Homo sapiens: one gene and its partner. The protein of the gene in region 1 purifies or fractionates together with the protein of each later gene. This does not show direct contact. Each region holds a gene or a part of one and is shown in the gene's direction. Other genes may lie near its edges. The genes, in order: SLCO2A1 and ACBD3.

Evidence for each region.
Region 2: the proteins of SLCO2A1 (region 1) and ACBD3 purify together in Homo sapiens (affinity purification with mass spectrometry; one large-scale study listed by BioGRID and IntAct). This does not show direct contact.

Annotation. Positions count from the first base shown.
Region 1 is NC_000003.12:133,949,844-133,953,669, reverse strand, and holds part of SLCO2A1 (solute carrier organic anion transporter family member 2A1), read left to right. Parts: coding exon 1-7; intron 8-2,325; coding exon 2,326-2,462; intron 2,463-3,826.
Region 2 is NC_000001.11:226,144,024-226,146,631, reverse strand, and holds the end of ACBD3 (Golgi resident protein GCP60), read left to right. Parts: coding exon 1-22; 3' UTR 23-1,953; downstream 1,954-2,608. UniProt on the Homo sapiens protein: Involved in the maintenance of Golgi structure by interacting with giantin, affecting protein transport between the endoplasmic reticulum and Golgi. Involved in hormone-induced steroid biosynthesis in testicular Leydig cells.

The DNA of each region.
Region 1 (3,826 bases):
AACACAGGTGAGTATGTGCAGAGGACACCCATTCCCATCCCCAGCTCAATAAAGCAGCCCCCAGCCCCCTCATCCAATCAGAACAGAGAATGAAGCTTCAGCTCCAGATGCGCTCTGCCACCTCCTCACTCGCTCACTCATCCCTGCAGTCCCTCGGAGAGCCAGGAGCAGACAGTGTGTGCCTCCTCTCTCAGGGCCCACGCTGGCCACTGTGAGGAACAAGCTGCTGAAGCAAACTCACTTTCTGCCCTTAAGAAGTTTGGAGACCCAGGGCAGGACCTCAGGTGTTGCCACCACAGCGCCCATCTTGGTGGCATTAAAAATATTTCTATGGGCTGGGTGCGGTGGCTCAAGCCTGTAATCCCAGCACTTTGGGAGGCTGAGGCGGGTGGATCACGAGGTCAGGAGATCAAGACCACCCTGGCTAACACGGTGAAACCCCGTCTCTACTAAAAATACAAAAAAATTAGCCGGGCGTGGTGGCAGATGCCTGTAGTCCCAGCTACTTAGGAGGCTGAGGCAGAAGAATGGCGTGAACCTGGGAGGCAGAGCTTGCAGTGAGCCGAGATCATGCCACTGCACTCCAGCCTGGGCGACAGAGTGAGACTCTGTCTGAAAGAAAAAAAAAAAATTCTATGGTTCTTTGATTCTAAGATGTTGCTGGTTCTTTAAGATTTAATAAGAGCTCTTTTGAGGAAAAAAAAGAAACATCATATAAAATATACACACGGATGATGACTCACATCCAGAGGGTATAACATGGTGTTTGACTGTGTGGGCGCTGGGACGGGACTGCCTGGGTCTCATCCTGGCTCCATCTCTTACTAGCCAAGTGATCTTAGGCAAGTAACTTTGTCTTTCTGTGCCTCAGCTTCCTCATCTGTAAAATGGAGCTAATGATAGTAAAATAAAGTTGTTTTAAAGATCAGAACAAGCCTAATGTATATTAAGAAGTCAACAGTATGAGTTCGTATTCTTCAACAAGTGGTATGGATGAGAATATATAGTCCCTAGACACCAGCATAAGTTCTGAGTTAACCATTCAGGGAGCCAGCCCCAGGATGAATGGAGCAAGGGCTTCCTGCCTTTGAGAGTGTGTCCCACACTACCCAGTCTCCCACAAGATGGGGAAGGTCAGCACCACAACAGAGGGACAGGCAAAGTGCTGTAGGGTGGAGAATGTGGGGAGTGTGTGGGTGGGATACGAAGTTCCAGCTCGGCTGAAGGGGTGGCTGAAAGGCAGGACTGAGCCAGACTCCAGGAAGAGCACTCCCACCACTGCCCTGCAAACAAGTCACGTCACAGATATCTGGCAGGTGCTAGTTGCAACCATGCTGCTAGAGCCTAGACTCCCGTCCCTAAGACTGTCAGACCACAGTGCCATCTGCATGGTGTCATTTGGCTGTACTTCCAATGAAAGTAGAAAGCCAGGGGGTGTCTTATGCCTCAGGATCAAGCCATCCCTGTCCTTTTGCTGGCACTCCCCGAATTGGTTCCTGGCTCTTGGTTGCCCAAAGAGACCAGCAACTGAGTGCCCAGTCCACTCAGGGCAGTGCCCAGGGAAGCTTGTCATGATTTGACTGAACCGTTCTGCCACCTTCTCCTTCCCTTTATGCCCGGATAGTTTCTTTACACAGAGAAACACAATGGCAGACTTTTACACGTGTGCAAGAGAATTGCCAAGAGAAAGCTGCTCCTTTGGAAGCCAGGCAGTTCACACAGTTGATGGTTGTTTCTTTAGGCTTCTAAGGATTATGGGGCCTCCTTTGTTAGGGATCCATAAAGTTGGGAGGCAGTAGTTTAATGGTTAAGAGGGCAGGTTTGCATACCAGGGAGACACAGGCTTGAAATTGACCAATGAAATGGCACTTACTAGCCTTTACCTGAGGCAAGGGACTTAACCCCTTCTATCCTCAGTTTCTTGACTGGTGAGAGGTGGGCAGACTTGCTAGAGAACCCAGTGGAAAACAGATGGAAAGCACGTGGTCTAGAGTCTGGCCCATGGTGTGCCCTTGTGAGTGAGAGTCAGCTCCCTTCTTCACTACTTCTGCCAAGGGCTGGGAGTTGAATAAGGAGGTGAAGGTACTGCTCCCTCCTGCCCGGGGATTTTCTGATGCTGTGCTTCATGTGCAGTGGCCTTGGTCCTCTGGGAAGACCAATAGCTGGGAGAGGGAATGTTGTTTTGACCAAGAATCTAGCTCATGGCTTGCCTCTTCTGCATCCTGGGAAGAAAATCAGTGAAACTCCCCCTGATCAGAGGTTCTGTTTCCAGTAAGGTGAGATCATGCATTCAACAAACATTTGCACTCTTCGTTTTCTCTTCAGCTGCAGTTAACTTGGTCCCGGGTGACCCCCGATGGATTGGAGCCTGGTGGCTAGGCCTGCTCATTTCTTCAGCTTTATTGGTTCTCACCTCTTTCCCCTTTTTTTTCTTCCCTCGAGCAATGCCCATAGGAGCAAAGGTAAGGTTCCAAGAGCCCATGACTCTACCTGATGGAGTTGAAGAAAGGGATGTGGGGGTAGAAAATAAATAGAGCTAAAAAGCTGCAGCATGTTAAGCAAATTCAGGGTGAAATCTAAACAAATTTCATGATGCAGGACTTCCCAGAGGCTTTAAGAGGTGAGGGTGTTGGTGAATTTCCAAAAGGTGGTATCTCCTATGTGTTCCCGTACCATGTTAGCATGTCAAGGATCAGGAGACCTCCAGGGAACAGTTTGGGAAACACTGAGCTTATCTAAATTGAGCTAAAGAATTAAGAGCCAATAAAGGCCAAGTCTGCGACCTGGTACAGTCAACTTTTACATTTAATAGGGCCTATCAGTGTTCAGTGTTTGAACCTGAAAAACTGAGTAGGAAGGGATTCCTAGCATTGAACAGTGTTGAGGGTGGCTGAAATTGGAGCATATTTTGAGCAGAGGACCTTCCAAGCATCTTCCAGTCACGCCTGCTGGGGAAAGGAATCAGGGAAGGATGAGAACGGAGAGCAAGGAAGAGAAGTCTGGGTAGGGGCTTGATGTTCAGCTGAAGGGTCTAAAGATTGTTCTAATTCCATGAAGTTCTAGAGCACTGCAGTGACTGGGTGGCCACTTGGGTGGCAATATGGCAGCTAGGTTGAGTTTAGGGGGTAGGGAAGGAATGGAGGCTGGAGATCTGAAGAGGCCAGTGCAGAGACCAGGTGAGAGATGGGGAATGCAGCAATGGTTGTCGGAGAGCTGGGACAGGGCAAAGATAAGGATAGACATTCCTAGGGTGGATGCCCAGAAGGACTCAGCAGTGAGCTGGCTTGGAGGAGAAGAAGGAGCTAAAGTTTATGCCTAGGCTTCAAGTCCCAAAATAGAGCTCAATGTTTGACAATGAGGTATATAAAATCTAGGCCCAGCCGGGGGGAGAGGGGCAGGGGTGGGAGGACCTCAGCTTGTCTTGGGGAAGAATTTCAGACGTTGGCTACACATCATGCAGGTGCTGGGGTCAGGCAGACCTGGGTTTGAATGAAGCTCTGCTACTTATAAACCAGCTGAGTTGGCCAGGTGTATAATCTCACACTTTAGGAGGCCAAGGCAGGAGGATTGCTTGAGCCCAGGTTGAGATTGGTGGGTAGGGAAGGAATGAAGTTCAAGACCACCCTGGGCAACATAGCGAGACCCCATCTCTAAAAAAAAAATTATTTTAAAAACTTAGCTCAGCATGGTGTTGAGTGCATGTAGTCCCACCTACTTGGGAGGCTGAGGTGGGAGAATCACTTGAGCCCAGGAGTTCGAGGCTGCAGTGAGCTATGACTGCACCACTGCACACCAGCTTGGGTGACAGAGTGAGACCCTGTCTCTA
Region 2 (2,608 bases), on another chromosome or scaffold:
CAGAGTCTATTATACTAGATAAAAATGTTGTTACAAAGTCTGGAGTCTAGGGTTGGGCAGAAGATGACATTTAATTTGGAAATTTCTTTTTACTTTTGTGGAGCATTAGAGTCACAGTTTACCTTATTGATATTGGTCTGATGGTTTGTGAACTCTTGCTGGGAATCAAAATTTCCTTGAGACTCTTTAGCATTCATACTTTGGGGTTAAAGGAGATTCCTCAGACTCATCCAGCCCTTGGGTGCTGACCAGCAGAGTCACTAGTGGATGCTGAAGTTACATGAGCTACATGTTAAATATTTAAAGTCTCCAAAATAAAACACCCCAACGTTGACCTTACCCGGCTGATGGTTAGCCCCTTGCTGCCTGCTCCATGTGTCTTATGAGAGCCCGTAGTTACAGTGTCCTCTAATTTGAAATCCATAAGTTAACAAGTCTATATCAGGTGCAGCTGGCTTTGATTAAAGGCCATTTTTAAAACTTAAAAACTCAACACCTCACAGATTATAATAGAAAAAGAAATGGCCTCAGTTTGATCTCGTTCAGAATGACCCAGATTGTTTCTGCTTTGGGTGCAGCTGTTTAGTTCAGAGTTATATTACAGAGAATTATTTTCTGAGATAATCTTAAACTAGAATGTTCAAAACTAATTGATAATTGAAGTATCAAGATACGTAGAACACCTCAGAGATTTTTCTTCAGGAACTTCCACAAACTTTGAATCCTTGTATCTTTATTTGGTATTCATACTACTAGTAGCAAAATACAGGTTTTTTGTTTTGTTTTGTTTTGTTTTGGCTTCATAGAGTATCTCAAATTGAAACTTTTCTGCACAAAGAATAAAATTAAGGATTTTATAAACTCAAATTGGCACCTACTGAATTAAAATACATAAAATCATTTAAATATAATTCAGCATATGGGAAGTAACATTGCACTAATATGGAAATCACTGCCAGAGACAGTCTATTTTCTTTTAATTTGTTACTACTTAGTCACAAACCCCACATTATTCCAGTTTGGAATTACTTATTAAGGAGAATTGGAAATACATATGCCCATGCTTAAATTTTATAGCTTTAATTTGTGTTATTTCTTTATTGACGGGAAGAGGTACATCTTTTTTTCCTTACTGAAAACAAATATGGATTAATTGCCTCAAATTTGTATAAGTGATTGGCTAGTGATTCTTGTTTTCAGAAGGGAGAGTGGTATAGATAGAAAATGACAAAGATGGCAATATACACTTAATGTTGTTATTGTATGTTGTTACTGAAGTACTTAGATTTTTAAAATTTCAAATCCTAAATCACTTCTTGTAGGAGGGTTTTCATTAACTGCAGTATATACAGTTCACTACATATGGGTTGTTTGAGTTTTTTGTGTGCTGTATTTCTTTCTGTTTTTTAATACCTGGTTTTGTACATATCTAACTCTGTTCTCTTTTGGTTGTTCAGAAACTGGATTTTTTTTTTCTTAAGCAGTGCTTAATTTGTGTTTTTTAATTTTGATTCAGAAGTAGTCCCAGCTCATAGGTGTTCATACTGTTACATCCAGAACATTTGTCAGGCTCTCTGTCAGCTTTCATGTACATATGGTATAGAAACCATGGAGTTAGGCACTTCCTGGATTTTTTTTTTATGAGAAAAATACTGTATTTAAAATGTAAAATAAACTTTTAAAAAGCAGGCACTAATATATATTTCTTCCAGCCTTTGATTACAAATTTGTCCTTGCACATGTTAAGATGAATTATCTCCTAAAAATATCATTGTTCTTGGGAGCAGTGTATGTTACTTTACATAGCAGCGGTTCCTGTCATGTGTTCATGTCAGAATATTTTTGGTTTTAAACTTTCTTATTGCCTTTGGCTGTTGATTAGTACAGTACAAGTGCGATTTCAAAAAGATCTTGAAAGTAATATATTTAATCAATTAAAATGTTTATCTGTAACTTGTTGATGTTTCATTAATATAGTTACTCTCTGAAGCATTAGTACAGTATTTCAACATTTGGGTAGGAGAAAAAGAAATGTTTCAAACATCTTTTTTGTTTTAAAAGGCTCTAGTTGAAAAACAACTCTTTCTGGCCAATTATTTAGTTTTACTATTAATTACCTTAGTGAGTTAAAATAGATTTAAATTTTTCCACACTTTTAAATGCAAAGGCTAGCACTGATTTTTCTTATTGAAAATGACTAGGTTATAAAGTTGTTTCTCTACACTACCATGTATGTAGTGTGTTCCATTAAATATGTGGACCCCACACACTTTAATGGATCTCCAGAGGCAGAGCCCTCGCTTGCTCAGGGTGGATGATTGCAGAGCACTTGTGGGGAAGTGCGCGATCAGTGTGATGTGGAGTCCCAGAATGAGGTTGCTACATCCAGATGACCCCACTGATAGGCAGGGTGACTGGCATAATTTTTTTCTTTTGAAATCTGGGGAGACAGATGAGGTGACCATCTTGGTTATTTTTGCTGTGTGGGATACCATAAAGCCAGACTGAAGACGCATTAAGGAGAGCAGTTGAGGTAAGCACATCTTGGAAAGTATGCTACCGAGTCTTGACCATCTATCTTTTGGAGCAGGAGAAGCAACCGGTTCAA